2 separate regions of the Homo sapiens genome follow, and region 2 is linked to region 1. Evidence: fine-mapped expression QTL. A gene starts in region 1. The other region holds a variant in brackets. All regions are shown on one strand. Distances are from middle to middle.

Evidence for each region.
Region 2: its variant is fine-mapped to the expression of RARRES1 in transverse colon (GTEx, PIP above 0.99).

Annotation. Positions count from the first base shown.
Region 1 is chr3:158,729,360-158,737,697 of GRCh38, reverse strand. RARRES1 (retinoic acid receptor responder 1) reads left to right here and starts at 5,241. Exons shown (of 6, transcript NM_206963.2): 1 at 5,241-5,558. The coding sequence starts at 5,283. LOC100287290 (a long non-coding RNA gene) reads right to left here and starts at 5,337. Exons shown (of 5, transcript NR_171782.1): 1 at 5,170-5,337; 2 at 3,661-3,747. RefSeq lists an enhancer at 4,789-5,289 and silencers at 5,367-5,426, 8,152-8,330.
Region 2 is chr3:159,005,111-159,013,448 of GRCh38, reverse strand. No RefSeq gene overlaps it. Among named protein-coding and RNA genes, the nearest start is that of IQCJ, 60 kb to the left of the region's middle. The variant T/C (reference allele first, on the strand shown) is at 4,192.

The DNA of each region.
Region 1 (8,338 bases):
AGCATACTACTTGCCCTACTCTACACCTTGCTGTTAACAACATTATACCTTAGAGATGGTTCAGTATCACACACACCTCAATCTACCTCTTCTTCATGACTGTACAATATTCCATTCTATGGAGGTACTATAATTAGTCAACCATGAAACACAGGTGTTTTCCCAGCCCTTAACTCTTCATTGTTTAAAAAAAAAAATCTGTATTCGTGTCTATTGTGTGCCAGTCACTGTTCTAGGGAATAGAGAGTAGAAAATGAGACATTCAGTGTCACTGCCGTGGAGGAGTTTACAATCCATATGTGGAAATGAACATCCTTGCACATACTTCTTTATGTACATGTGTGAATGTATTGTTATTATAAACTCTCAAGGTGGAATTGCTGGGTCAGAGCCATGTGCATTTCTAATTTCAATAGATATTGCAAATTGTCCACCAAACAGGTCATGTCAGTTTCCCCTCTCACCGTCTGTACTATCTTTTCATATGATTAAAAGTCATTATAGCTTTATATACCATTAGGTTTCTTAAACACAAAGTAAGTTCTCTAAAATGCTCATGATAACCTGAGCAATGACTAAGGAACTAGGGAACATGACATATCAGGACACCCTTGTGGGGACACATCTGCTTCTGTGCAGAGGCTGGGGCAGAACCTGCTGGCTGATACTTTCCTCACCTCCTATGTGGCACAGTCTTCCAGCAGCCCTGGGCCAGGGGTGGGATATGATGACAGGTCTTTTGGAGAACGTGGTGGACAGTTAGCAATGTCACTCCCCCACACAGTATGTGGCAAGGAAGAAGAATCTGTGTACACACAAAATCTGTCTATGAACTGAGAAAAAACACAGGGATACCCATGACAGACCAAGGCCTGATTTCCCTCGTATTGAAAGAGCTTCTACAAATCAACCAGAAATCCAACCACCCCACAGGTAAGTGGACAAAGAATATGGACAGTTCTTGCAAAGGAAATACTCTGTGTTCCAGAAAATCCCTGTTTATAAAATAAATACTATAATTAAATGTCTACATGCATTGCTGATCAGCATCAATTTGCCCCCATTGTAACTGTTATCACTATTTAAAATAGCTAACCTCGGAAGAGTGCCCTGAGCTCACACAGCAGCACTTGGTCTCCTGGTCTTTTCTGTCTTCCCTCTTGCTTATGACTTTCCATGATTCTCACCATCTCATCTCATAGGCAGGAACTGCACACACGCTGCACAGGCTGCCTGTTGGCCACTATCAGCCATTCCCACCCTTCCCCTCCTCGCCTCAGTGACAGAGGTGGCTACTTCCTTCCCACTAGGCATTATCCCTGCAGGGACCCCACTGGGGCTCTGCAGATTCCCAGATCCCTTTCTCTGAGTCTGCCCCTTCCACTTGGCATGCTTTTGCTTCTGACCTAAGGCTCCTGCAGCTCTTCTGGGAGGGCTGTTCTTGTGCTACTGCCCTTTTGTGCCCACCTATAGAAAGACTGAAGTACCTGGGTTATCAACGAGGGTGGCTCTTAGCCAGTGGCTGACAGGCATAGAAGAATGGAAGCCCAGATACCCTGCCTGGGGCAGGGACATCTCAGAGGCATTGTTTACAGTTGAGAGCTCCCCTTCAGGTCAGGCTGAACCTACCTGTCATATAACTGTCTGAGATCCTTGCATGGCTATCCTTCTTCTAGCTCCTTACTGAATTCTGCTCGGAGCATTTCTTTTAGGAACAATCTTTGTTTCTGGGCCTGCTTCTAGGAAACCCAACGTAAGACACAATCTTCTTCCTCAGTAACAAAATCCTGAGTTTTATTTTGGCATATGGCCACCGTGAATAAAAACTACATTTCCCAGCTTCCTTTGCAACCAAGTTCTTGCCAATAAGATACAGGGCACAAGTGCCCTGTGAGACTTCTAGGAAATCCATAAAGGGAGTCCTGCTGATGGCTAGTGTCCATCGTGGACCCTGAGGGCAAGGGGTACATCCTCAGGATGTGGGAGCAGAGATCTGGAAAAGGCCTGGACCTCTAACAACCTCATGGATCTGCCAATACCAACCGCAGATTGTCTACCATCCCACCATTACCCCACAACTTCTTTTGAGAAATAAGTTCCTCTCCTGTTTAAGCCAATGTCATTCGGGTGTTTATTCCATGCAGTTAAATTTAATCCTAGTTTACAGACCAGACCATTGACTCTGAAAAACGACAGACACTCAGTTTGCCAGCCTCCCTTGCAGCTAGGCTTTGCCAGTGTAACCCAGATCTGGCTGAGGAGGTATAAAGGAAGGTCTTGGGGGGAAGAAAGGTGTAGGCAGGAGGTTCTGGAAAAGATATTTCTTCCTGATGCAAAAAACAAACAGGTGCACAATGTCCAGCTCTCTTTCCACTCTGGCAACCTATTCCCTGCTACCTGCCTTTGGCTGCAGCATGTGAAGATGTGCTGTCTGGAGCTGTGGCAGCCATTCTATAACCAGGAAACTACAAGTGCATGGACAAAAAGCCAACCAGCTGAGGATGGCTGTGCAGAAGGATGGAGAGAGCCTGGGTCTTTCAGAAACTCACTGAGATCTCCCACTCCAAACCAATAAATGGTCCACACTGTTAATCGGGTTTTCCATTACATACAGTTGAAAGCAATCTAACATACTCACAGGGAACAAAGCACTGAAGTAAAATCACCTGGAAGTGATCAATTCTCAAAAAGCCTGCTACTATAACCTCTTGGAGGGTGCTATAGTTTGGGTGTTTTTGTCCCCTCCAAAATTCATGTTGAAACTCAATTCCCAGTGCAAGAATGTTGGGAGGTGGGGCCTAGAGTGAGGTGTTTAGGTCATAAGAGTGGGTACTCTCTCACTCTTCCAGCATGTGAGGACACAGCGTTCCTCCCCTTCATAGGATGAAGCACGCAAAGCCCCATTTTGGAAGCAGAGACAGAGCTAAGACCCCACCAGACACCAAGCCTGTTGGTGCCTGGATCTTGGACTTCCAACCTCCAGAACTGTGAGAAACAGATATCTGTTCTTTATAAATTACCCAGTCTCAGGTATTCTATTATTGCAGCACAAAACAAACTATGGGGAGATGACTGGGTTCTGGGAGGTGATTACCTGTGCTAGGCTTGCCTCTGAGGGCAAGAAACAGCAACTCCAGCTTCAGGGAAGTGAAATAATAAGAAATAAACTCCAGGATCCGCTGATTCCTGTGTTCAACAATGCCATCAGGAACCCAGGGCCCTCCCCTCTCTCTGCTCTGCCACTCTTGAAATGGGCTTCATTCTCAGGCAGCCAGCAAGACAGAGGCATGCTTCTGGGCAGCACAGCCAGACCTAACTGGGGCCTATCGAGGGCCTGCACTCTCCCCCTTGGCTTCTCCCTCCAGCTGGATTTTCTTGCTTTTCTTCAAACATGCCAGATAGGCTCCTGCCCTAGCCTCTGCACTTGCGTTCCCTCTGCCTACAGTGCTTTTGCATACATGTCCACTTGGCTCTGCCTCCTTCAGGTCCTCACCCAAATATTACCTCCCGAGAGAGGCCTGCCCTGACCACACCTTTTAAGATTAACCACCTCCCAACTCCCCATTTCTTTTTCTGGCTTAATTTTTCTCCCTGGCATGTAACTTCATCCAATATAGCACACATTCCCTTGGCCTCACTGAGTGTCCGGGCCCCACTTGCCTAGAAGGTGTGCTCCAGGAAGGCAGAGATGTTTAAGATTGTTCACCCTCATTCCCCCAGGGCCTGGCACAGGTGTTTCACAATTATCTGCAGAAGGAAGGAAAGACAGACAAGGGACAGACAACAGCCAGAGGAAGAAGTGCAGTAAGACAGGATCTTTCCAGAGATGGCACCACGCCCATCAACCCACAGGCTTTGCTCACCATGCAGAACTGGCACATGCCCACTCTCAACCACCCACTGGCAAAAAGAGATTTCCTTTAGCCCCACAATGGCACTGGGGTCCACGTTTGGTGCAGGGGTAGACCCCTGAACAAAATGCAGGATGGAGAAATGGATGTTGGGAGTGCCTAGCAGTACCAGTTCTCCTCTCTCAGCCCTGGTTCTCCAGGACTTTTTCTCTTGCCTACGGTTTAAAAACAATGGCTATCTTAGCCCTTCACTGCCACCTGTCTAAAAAGAGTTGCCGCCGGGTACCGTGGCTCACGCCTGTAATCCCAGCACTTTGGGAGGCCCAGGCGGGCGGCTCACGAGGTCAGGAGTTTGAGACCAGCCTGACCAACATGGTGAAACCCCGTCTTTACTAAAAATACAAAAATTAGCCGGGCATGGTGGCTGTAGTCCCAGCTACTCGGGAGGCTGAGGTAGAATTGCTTGAACCTGGGAGGCGGAGGTTGCAGTGAGCCAAGATCGTGCCACTGCACTCCAGCCTGGGAGACAGAGCAAGACATGGTCTCAAAAAAAAAAAAAAAAAAAAGAGTTGCCAACACTTGCTGCCTCCATTCCCTGAAGCCCCATCCATGCCTCACCCCGCTGGAATCCGACTTCCATCCCCGGCCTTTAAATCTGCCTCGCACAGTGGTTATCAATGTATCAATGACCTACTTGCTTCTGAGACAAATGGGACTCTCAGGCCTTATCTTACCCTGCCTTGCTGCCCACTCCTCCCTCCTCGGCGCCTCTTCTGGGCAGGACCGGCAGGTGTTCAGGCCCGTCCCCAGCCCCTGGCTCCGGCGTCCCGGGCTCCCTGCCGGCATCCACCTTCACCTCCTCCCCAGCCCCAGCCCTCTGGCGACTTCTCCCACCTCCACAGTGGCTGTGCCACGAGGAGCCCCATCAATGCCCGCTGCGGCCTGCCCCTTTCTCCGCCGTCCCCTTTCACCTGCTGGGAAATCACAGCCCTAATGCTTGGAGAATCCAAGCAGTTTCCCTCTAAAACCCCAGGGTTGCGAAACCGCAGGGGAAACGCCAAGTCCCTGAGCTGGGCTAGGGACGCGGTACGAGGTAGCACGGGCGGGCCGCGATTCCTCGGGGAGGCGTCCCCATTGTCCCCCCAACCCCGACCCTCTCCCGCCGCGGCCTGGGCCAGAAGCACCCGGCCCTGCGCTGCGGAGGCGATGCCGCATCCTAGCACTAAGCCCGGGCAGCGGGGAGGGGCAGAGAGAACCCAGGGGCTGCGGGAAACGTGGAAAAGGAGTGGCCCCATGGGGACCCGGGCTCGCTACAGACCTTCGCCCTGGGGGCGGAGGGGAGGGGCCCACCACGGCCTTATTTCCGCGAGCGCCGGCACTGCCCGCTCCGAGCCCGTGTCTGTCGGGTGCCGAGCCAACTTTCCTGCGTCCATGCAGCCCCGCCGGCAACGGCTGCCTGCTCCCTGGTCCGGGCCCAGGGGCCCGCGCCCCACCGCCCCGCTGCTCGCGCTGCTGCTGTTGCTCGCCCCGGTGGCGGCGCCCGCGGGGTCCGGGGACCCCGACGACCCTGGGCAGCCTCAGGATGCTGGGGTCCCGCGCAGGCTCCTGCAGCAGGCGGCGCGCGCGGCGCTTCACTTCTTCAACTTCCGGTCCGGCTCGCCCAGCGCGCTACGAGTGCTGGCCGAGGTGCAGGAGGGCCGCGCGTGGGTGAGTGCGGAGCGACGCGCCGGGGCACGCGCCTGCCTGTCCGCGCACGGCGCTGGGAGGTGACACCTGGGTACGCGCGCCTGCCGGCCCAACGGATGGTCCGCCAGGGAAGGTGCAGTGCGCACGACGCCCGGGGAGATCCCAGCTGGGCCTGGCGCCCCTGAAGTATCCCAGGGCGTGGAAGGGGCCCCTTCGGTGCACAGCGTCTGCAGAAATCTGGCTCGTTCCTTCCAGCATTTATGAGGTCATAGGTTTTTCACAGGGCAGCGCTCTTGACTGCTCCCACACCTGGGAAAGAGATGCTTTGGGAAATTGAGGAACAGGCTGAAAGGGCAACATTTAATTTTGTCCGGAGGTACCCAGAGTTGGTTGCTATGGGGGTGCTTACTGTGCCTGCGCCCTACTAGTGGCTGCAGCCAAAGTTTTGGGCGGGATTTCCAAAATCTAAGCCAGTAGCCATACCATACCGCGGACGACTGTCTCTTGTTAATTGCAGTCCACCACGCTAGGGCTTCGGGGTAATGTGGTTGGAATTTACACGTAGGCCTGGGCAGAAACCTGCTAATGCTGGCGTCTGATTTGATCTAATTAGAAGTGAGTGAATCCGAGCCCAGTGTTCTATATGAACCGAATGAATGAGAACTTTGCAACCCGTTGTTTGGTTGCTGATTTCAAGGCATTGACTGTAGGAATTGTCTCGTATGTGTGAAGCTACTTTGCGTTCTTCATCCTATAGATTACAAAAGTTACAGAACTACACTAAGTCTGTCCCAAAAGCAAAGTTGCTCCTTCTACAACCTCCAGATATTCCACAAAGCCTGCAGACACACGGCCTCAAAGAATCTGGAATTGAGTATCGCATGTATTTAATAAATAGGTCGAGTTTTAAAGTGTAGCAGCAGGATTTTCATTTAACAGTGCCAAACGCCTGGAAGCAAACACCATTGGAAAGTCCTTCAAGAAGCTCAGCCTCGGTTCTTCAAAACTTATTCCTGTACCCGGCACGGCTGTATTTATTGAATGATTAAATCAAATTGTTCCTAGAAAAAGGCAACCTGGCCAGGCACGGTGGCTCACGCCTGTAATCCCAGCACTTTGGGAGGCCGAGACAGGTGGATCACCTGAGGTCGGGAGTTCGAGACCAGCCTGACCAACATGGAGAAACCCTGTCTCTACTAAAAATACAAAATTAGCTGGGTGTGGTGGCGCATGCCTGTAATCCCAGCTACTTGGGAGGCTGAGGCAGGAGAATCGCTTGAACTTGGGAGGCGGAGGTTGCGGTGAGCCGAGATTGCGCCACTGCACTCCAGCCTGGGTAACAAGAGCAAAACTCCCTCTCAAAATAAAATAAATAAAATAAAATAAAATAATAAAGAAAAAGGCAACCTGCTGGGGCATGGTGGCTCACGCCTGTAATCTCAGCACTTTGGGAGGCCGAGGTGGGCAAATCGCTTGAGCTCAGGAGTTGTAGACCAGTCTGGGTAACATGGCAAAGTACCATCTCTGCCAAAAATAAAAAAAATTAAAAATTAAAAAAAAATTAGCCGATGTGGTGGCGTGGGCCTGTGGTCCCAGCTACTCAGGAGGCTGAGATGGGAGGATTGCTTGAGCCCAGGACCCCAGGACCTGGAGGTTGCAGTGAGCAGAGAATGTGCCACTGCCCTCCAGCCTAGGCAACAGAGTGAGACCCTATGGGGAAAAAAAAGAGAGAGAAAGAGAGAGAGGAAGGAAGGAAGGAAGGAAGGAAGGAAGGAAGGAAGGAAGGAAGGAAGGAGCAACCTATTCTTGTCACCTGTCTTTGTTTTTTTTTTTTTTTTTTTGAGACAGAGTCTTGCTCTGTTGCCCAGGCTGGAGTGCAGCGCTGCGATCTCGGCTTACTGCAACCTCCGCCTACCAGGTTCAAGCGATTCTCCTGCCTCAGCCTCCTGAGTAGCTGGGATTACAGGCACGTGCCACCACGCCTGGCTAAGTTTTCTATTTCTAGTAGAGACAGGGTTTCACCATGTTGGGCAGGCTGTTCTCGAACTCCTGACCTCGTGATCTGGCCGCCTGGGTCTCCCAAAGTGCTGGGATTACAGGCATGAGCCACCGTGCCGGGCCATCTTGTCACCTGTCTTAACAATCCTTGCTGTCTGAGATACAAAAAAGTTCAGTTTTCCTAGTCCAACAGAGCAGTGAGATAACGGACCTTGAGAACTTTCTATCAAGGTAGAAGAGTAGTAGCCAATGCCCAGAGCCTAAAGAAGGGGCGTCTAAGGATTTGCTCCCTGGTTACCAGGGGCAGGATTCCCTGCAGAAAACCAAGCTCACTCAGATTTCTAAGGTACACCAGTTTTCAATCCCAGAGATTTTTTTTCCCCTTCCAAACCATTTTAAAAAGGAATAATAGGCTGGGCGCGGTGGCTCACGCCTGTAATCTCAGCACTTTGGGAGGCCGAGGTGGGCAGATTACAAGGTCAGGAGTTCAAGACCAGCCTGGCCAAGATAGTGAAACCCCTTCTCTACTAAAAATACAAAAAGAAATTAGCCGGGCATGGTGGCAGGCACCTGTAATCCCAGCTACTCGGGAGGCTGAGATAGAGAATTGCTTGAACCCGGGAGGCAGAGGTTGCAGTGAGCCAAGATGGTGCCACTGCACTCCAGCCTGGGCAACAGAGCGAGACTCCGTCTCAAATAAATAAATAAATAAATAAAGGAATAATAAAATAACTTGCATTATCATGCACTTAGTCACCCCCTTGAAAATAAAATAAGATATTTGACATCCTTCATAAAATAAT
Region 2 (8,338 bases), 280 kb before region 1:
TATAAAAGTATAAAAGGTTATAACCAAAATTTTAAGAGTAAATATCTCTGGATGGTGAAATTATGGATTTTTTTTTATTTTTATTAATTCATATTACCTAGTTTTCTAATATGAACACGAATTACATTATATAATGTTTCAAAATAAGACAAAAGGTTAACTGAAACCATAGCTTCTCACCTGGAAGGATAATACCTGACTCATGGACTCCCATGGCCTTTATGCCCCAGTGCCAACATGTAAATAATCCTTCCAATAGTCTCACCTCATCCCTTCCTCTAATCCCTCCCCTGATCTCCTTACTGGGGCTGAGGAGAAAGCAAAGTGCAAATAACTAGGTATTAAAGTAATATTTGGTGATTCAAATTAGTTTAGCCAATATAACCTTTACAGGACTCTTGTTAAAATGTACACAAAGACTTTTATCGATCCCAAGCACAAATACAAGATTCAATTTAAAACATCTTGTGTTTCTGCTGAAGCCAAAGCAATGACAACCCCTGTAAATTCCCTAAGGGAAGACCAGAAATGCACTGAGTGATATATAATAGCTATCTCCCAAGAAAAGAACAAGAAGCCATTTATGAAATCTTACCATGTAGGAAGACTAATGTGTCTATTAAAAGCAAAAATGTGAACTCCAGGTCTTCTCATTGGGGACTGATTTAAATGCAGTTTTGCTAAATTAGTGGTAGAAGAGATCTAAAGTAGAAGACTAACAATGAAGTCACATAAAACAGTACATCCTTGGTAGGAATAATTTATATGGTACAATTCCTACACAAAGTAGACGAGTAAATAGGTTAGACAATTGTTTTTCAAGGTGCTACTATATAGGGAAGCAGTGCTTTTTTCATCAAACCCACATCATGTTAATAAGAAATTGTTTTCAATATTCACTTTATTAAGAAGACTAACTCATTTTAACAAAGTTAAGCATTCATAAACATTAACTGTACTTTATAATTGGAATTTTTTCTAAACTATATCTGATTTTTACTCCAGAAAGCCAATATTAAAGGCCAACATGATATGAAGAACAGTCAGCAAGTGACTTCTAATCCTATCAAACAAATTATAAATGCTTTGCAACATAAACATTTTCTATTGCCTCATTTGTTCTCACTTATTTTCTCAATGTTTAGAACCCTTTATCAGGCTTTTAGGGAGCAGTATCTGTCAGTCTGTCAGCCACTTTGGGTTAAATTCAAGCTCATCTGTGCCCGCTGCACAAACAAACATAAAAGTCTATTAGAAGCATGAAGAAATGTGCTTATAATCTCTTATAGAAACCAGAAGTCTTTCCTATAGACATGACTTCATATGCATACTACAAGGCTACAGTAACCAAAACAGTATGGTACTGGTACCAAAACAGAGATATAGACCAATGGAACAGAACAGAGCTCTCAGAAATAATGCCACATATATCTACAACTATCTGATCTTTGACAAACCTGACAAAAATAAGAAATGGGGAAATGATTCCCTACTTAATAAATGGTGCTGGGAAAACTGGCTAGCCATATGTAGAAAGCTGAAACAGGATCCCTTCCTTACACCTTATACAAAAATTAATTCAAGATGGATTAAAGACTTAAATCTTAGACCTAAAACCATAAAAACCCTAGAAGAAAACCTAGGCAGTACCATTCAGGACATAGGCATGAGCAAGGACTTCATGTCTAAAACACCAAAAGCAATGGCAACAAAAGCCAAAATTGACAAACGGGATCTAATTAAATTAAAGAGCTTCTGCACAGAAAAAGAAACTACCATCAGAGTGAACAGGCAGCCTACAGAATGGGAGAAAATTTTTGCAATCTAATCATCTGACAAAGGGCTAATATCCAGAATCTACAATGAACTCAAACAAATTTACAAGAAAAAAACAAACAACCCCATCAACAAGTGGGTGAAGGATATGAACAGACACTTCTCAAAAGAAGACATTTATGCAGCCAATAGACATATGAAAAAATGCTCATCATCACTGGCCATCAGAGAAATGCAAATCAAAACCACAATGAGATACCATCTCACACCAGTTAGAATGGCGATCATTAAAAAGTCAGGAAACAACAGGTGCTGGAGAGGATGTGGGGAAACAGGAACACTTTTACACTGTTGGTGGGACTGTAAACTAGTTCAACCATTGTGGAAGTCAGTGTGGCGATTCCTCAGGGATCTAGAACTAGAAATACCATTTGACCCAGCCATCCCATTACTGGGTATATACCCAAACGACTATAAATCATGCTGCTATAAAGACACATGCATACTTATGTTTACTGCAGCACTATTCACAATAGCAAAGACTTGGAACCAACCCAAATGTCCAACAATGATAGACTGGATTAAGAAAATGTGGCACATATACACCATGGAATACTATCCAGCCATAAAAAATGAAGTGTTCACGTCCTTTGTAGGGACATGGATGAAGCTGGAAACCATCATTCTCAGCAAACTATCGCAACAACAAAAAACAAAACACTGCAGGTTCTCACTCATAGATGGGAATTGAACAATGAGAACACATGGACACAGGAAGGGGAACATCACATACTGGGGCCTGTTGTGGGGTAGGCAGAGGGGGGACGGATAGCATTAGGAGATATACCGAATGTTAAATGACGAGTTAATGGGTGCAGCACACCAACATGGCACATGTATACATATGTAACAAACCTGCACGTTGTGCACATGTACCCTGAAACTTAAAGTATAATAAAAAAAAGAAATGACTTCATACGTCCCACTGTTTCCATCCCATCCTTTACTCACCAAACTGCCCAAACAACAAACACACACGTACACACACTTTAGATTTTAAAACATAATTAAGAAAAAGATACTGAACCGTATGAAAATATTCTTTGACAGAGGACATAATTCTCCTCTATACAACAAAACAAAAACATCTGTTAATCCAGCTCCTTTATTTCACTTTTACAATAAGAAAGCTCAGAGGTTCTGTAGATGTCAACAACAAACACATGCCCAAAGGCATAAAAAGATGAGAAATGCAACCACCAAATCAGCAGCAGCAACACCAGGTAGGGAAGGTACCCTGGGTACTGCTCGAGGCAGCTAGCAGCCTTCAGTGTTTCGCAAGCCATCAGACTTCGTTAGAACAGATGTTACTTAGCCACCAGAGAGGTCTTGGTACCACGCATGCCTGCCTGCCCAGCGAAGGAAACTTTATTGTATGGAAGAGTTAGTATACTCTGTTCAAGTCTCCTTTCTCTTTCTTCTCAGAGGTCCTGAAAACTAAAAACAAAGGCAAAGAGAGTGAAGTGAGGAAGAAGATGATCTATTCTGAATTGACTGTCAGTAAAGAACATGGCTTCTGCTCTGGCTTTGTGGAAGAAATCACAAAAATATGACGGTCCAATGTGTTCTTGGGAACAGGGAGAAGAATATTACCTGGGAACAGCCTGGGACACTGCAAGGAAGAGAGCGTCCACATCATTTGAATAAGCTACAAGTGATAAGTCATTTTTCATTAATTCAGCTAACAAACATTTATTAAAAGCCTACTATGTGCTGGTACTGTTCTAGGTGCTGAAGATACAGCCTTAAATAAGGTGAAGAAGGTCCCTGCCCTCAGATGTGTACATTCTAGTCGAAGAGACCTAAAAAGCTAGGAATAAATAAACTCGGGTAATGTAAGTGCTAGGAAATAAAATTAGGCAAGATAAAAGAATGGAAAAGGTCCAAAGGTGGATGGGCAGGGGTGCGAGGGAAGGAGGCTGATGGTTATTTTAGATAGGGGGGTCAAGATGGACCTACATACACCAACCAAGATTCCAGCAAGGTCAACCTTTGGCTGCCTGCTAAATGTGATTTAAGATACGCTGCCAGGAAAGGACGCATCCATTTATTCATTCAAAAATGTACTGCTGGACATGACTAGTGTGTACTGGACACTGCTGTGCATTAGGGATACAGGGTAAGCAGAAAGAAACCAAAACAAAACATGCTGCAGGAAGGTAGCCCTTAACCAGGTAAACGGCCAAATAAATAAAGGGCTATCACTGGTGACTTTTGCCAAAAGTGCAACAAAGGAAACTGCACTTATTCAAACTGAAATAGCTAGGCGCTAAAACCAACAGAAGCCATCCATGCTCAGAGGTTTTCTGGCTTCTCAGCTAACAGAGATTTGATGGCAAGTGGGAAGGGGAGGAA[T/C]GTGGACAGGATCCAAGCCTGAGGTTACTGAAAGTCTGGAAAGGTAAGAAGGCTTCCCAAGGGTTGAGAAGGTCACAGAAAGGGGTGTGGGTATGAATCTGGAGGTTCTTGGAGGTGGAAGGTACCTTCAAGTAAATTAAACAAAACCCACACCCATTACTTAGGTGAGGCAACCAAAGCCCAGAGATGTCAAACGGCTTGCATAAGGTCACAGAACTAGATCATGGGATACCCGCAAGTAGAATCGCAGTCTACTTGTCAGTGAAGTTAAGCATTTACACTGAAATCTATATTTCACTTGGGGTGGGTAGGGAGGGTGAACAACAGGTATGTGTTTTCCCTCTATTTTCAAAATCTGATGAAAAAGAGGAGGAATTAAGAGGAGAATTTGCGATTAGACTCAGAGAGCTCACAAGTCTCAGAAATAATCTGTAAGTCCTCTTTAAAATAAATCGGGATTTTATTTAAACACAAAGTCAACCTTCAGACACAGTAGACGTGAAATCCTCCTGTTAGGGCAGGGATTTGCTGGAGCTCATTAATTCTGAGCAGGGTTGTTTCCCGCCCAGCTTTCTTCAGTGTGTACAGTATTTTCATTTTTCTTGCTCTTACTTTTTTGGGCACTGAGCCCAGCTCTGAGACTCCTGGGTACAGGCATTTACAGAGAAGCTGCTGTTGGGCCTGCACGCTGGTACCATCCCACAGCAGAAGAAAGGGAAGATAAACCACCATTTATTTCTAAGTGTAAACCTTTTAGTTACTTAGAATGGTGATGCTCTAAATAGCCAGAGTGTTCTAAGTGGTAACTTATCTTCATTCTCCTGACACACGACATTGTCAGCACAGCCTGTTTTGGCATGAGAGGAGTCCTAGCTAGGGGCAAGATTCCTCAGGATAACCTGATGTTTAGCAGAATGATTACCAGTATGAATATTTTATCCATATCTCTTTGATAATCCTTGAGACAGAGTTTCACACTTGTTACCCAGGCTGGAGTGCAATGGTGCGATCTCTGCTCACCACAGTCTCTGTCTCCTGGGTTCAAGCGATTCTCCTGCCTCAGACTCCCAGATAATCCTTTTAAGGGTAGGCAATGAACCTAGACAGTCACTAATGAGGTTTGGGTAGTTTGCTGTTTTTTTCTGGAATTTCACATCAGTAGTCAGTGGCCCAAGCTCAGCTTCATTGGCCACAAGGCAGAATGCTTTTAGATAAGAATGAGCTTGCACTCTGCTTTCACCAAGGAATTCTTTAAAAAAAAAAAAAAGGAAATAAAATAATAATAATTAAAAAAAAACCTCCAGATTTTCTTTTGCTTGTTTTTGTGTGTTTGCTTTTTACCCTGTTTTCTGGAACTATGTGGAAGTTGAACCTATCAAAGTGAGATGGCCTCAGCCAGATGCATGGGCCAGAGTCCCACAAGAGATCTCTAGATTCTACATAAGAAGGGAAAGCAGGGGAGTAGGGCAAAAAAAAAAAAAAAGAAGGGGAAGCAAAATACCCCCTGCCTTCAGGGTCAGCCTCCCTTAACTAACTTTCTGTTCCCTGCCTGGAAAAAAATCAGCAAGGGGGAAAACTGGGATACACAGATTTTATTTCACTGGCTTCCTTCCTTTACTTCCTCTTCCCCAAATTTCCCAAGGTAGAAAAGGGTCAGGCTTTTTTCTTATCTCCTCTGCTCTCCAGGCTTCTTCTACCATGAAAGATATAGAAGGCAGCCCCGTGGCTTTGCTGTCATAGGCAGGAGTATCATTTTTGGTTCCTTCCTATGTTGAAGGAGGGAGATAATGATCTTTTCAAAATCCTCTCTCCAGATAACAGCCTGGCTTTCCAGGCTATCACCTTGCTGGGTGATCCTACTTTGCATATCAGAAACTAATAATGCTCTCCTCTCAGGTAGATGGGCTTCTCAAACTAACTGGAAATGCTTATGGACCCAGAGAAAAGAAGCATGCCCAGGAATAATATTTTAAATATTATCCCTCTGACTTGTAGATGCTACCTGGGTGATGGATGTTTACATCGTTTCTTTCTTTTGCTATTACAGATATTTCTGCAAGGATGAACATACATACTTACCTGCATGTGTAAGTATGTCAATAAGATAAAATCCTAGATACAGAATTGCTCAAACTTTGTATTTATATATAACGTTTGCAAAACTTAAAACACAAAATGGAAAGTTAGGTGAAGATGAGTGGGAAGAAGTGAAAGTCTTTGAAATTGTGTGGGAGAACAGAACTCCAAAACATTACCAAAACAATTTATTCAGACTGCACTCACATTTTTCATGCCAATGGTACAACTCTCAGAGAAAAGTATGTGAGGTGTCAGCTTCTTCATTTCAGCAAGTCAAATTTCTCGTTCCATTTTCTCATTCAGTTCATAGTTCCAGAGTACCCTGGACCATGTTCATTTGCCCTTCAGATTTTCTTTAAGATGACTGACAAAATTGCTAATGGGATGCAATGGCTTTAGACTCTAGGTCACTGGTTTTCATGTCAGTGAGTCCCATAGCAGTGTTTCCTTTTTTATTAATTTTGTTTTTGAGACAGGGTCTTGCTCTGCCACCCAGGCTGGAGAGTAGTGGTGCAATCTCAGCTCACTGCAACCTCCTCCTCCCGGTTCAAGCGATTCTCCTGCCTCAGTCTCCTGAGTAGCTGGGATTACAGGCAACCGCCATCACGCCCAGCTAATTTTTGTATTTTTAGTAGAGACAGGGTTTCACCATCAGGCTGGTCTCGAACTCCTGACCTTGTGATCCGCCCGCTTTAGCCTCCCAAAGTGCTTGGATTACAGGTGTGAGCCAAGCAGTGTTTCTTATAGAAAATAAATGACTAGACAATCACCGTGGTTACGTATTCTCCTCTAGTTCATTTCCTTCCTAAGCTCATTCATCTGTGTTTCTACATTCTTCCACAACAAATTACAAATGTTAAATTAAAATTTCCTAGAACTTTTTCTATGTCTATATATGTATATATTTTAACTGGAAAGTAATAATGAACATACTCTTCCACACTTGCTTTTTTCCACTTAAGAACATATTTTCTGTATTTTAAATGTACAATCTTATCTTACTAATGAGATCTAACTAATTCATTTAATATATGCATAGAATTATGTTGTATGGAAGTGGTAACCTATGTGGTTAGATTGTGATAGGACCTCCATTTTGTATGTTTTATCTGTCTGTACTGTTTCATTACTTCGACAATATAATTTTTATAAAAATTGATAAATTTTTATTTAAAATAAAATAAAATAAAATTTCCACTATATGATTATTGTTGTAGATTTTTCTCCCCTCTGTGTTAGGCTCAGGATGCTCATAGTAACCTCCCCTGTTTTTCACTCTCACTCTCTAAATGTCTTTTACTTGTTTACCTTCCCCACACTTACTTCCTCTCCTTTATCTAGGTCTGTCCACTGTAATTCATTCTGTCACCCCAGCAAACTTCCACACATACGTTTGTCTCTCTTACTCTTTTGGCACAACTCCTTAAATGTCTAAAAACTCCTCTTACATTCTTCTAACATTTACCCCATCGCTACTTCCACCTACAAATTTAAAAAGAAATAATCGTTTTATCCTTTTACCAGTTTGCACTTCTGCTGTGTATATTCCTACTAAAATTTTCTAGAGGATTATAGTTGGGGAAGGAGAGAAACAAAAAAGCAGGAGAGACCCACCTTAGCCGTTTAAGAAACTAAACCATAAAATACCATATTCAACCTTTTTGTGAACATTCTTTGATATGCTGCACTGCTCTACTCCTTTAATTAAAAATAATGGTCAAATAAAAATACTTTCAGAAATTGTGAGATGACTCAGTTAAAAGGAGGATATCACTGCTGATGTATAGATAATACAATTATCTCATGACAAGGACATAAACCCCCTGAACCAGATGGCCCTGCAATTGAATTTCACAAGAAATTTAGAAACTTATTACAGGAACCACCCTGTGCTCCCAGATAGAGACTACACTTTTTTACCAGAGCATAATATGTCAGAAACAGCCAAGTGATTGAGTTTTATGCAAATCAAATAACCATAGACTAAGGCCTCTTCATCTCCATTTCCTAAGATAACAATGTAAACTCTCCTAGAATGGAAGGAGAAATCAGTTTGATTTTTGCAAGG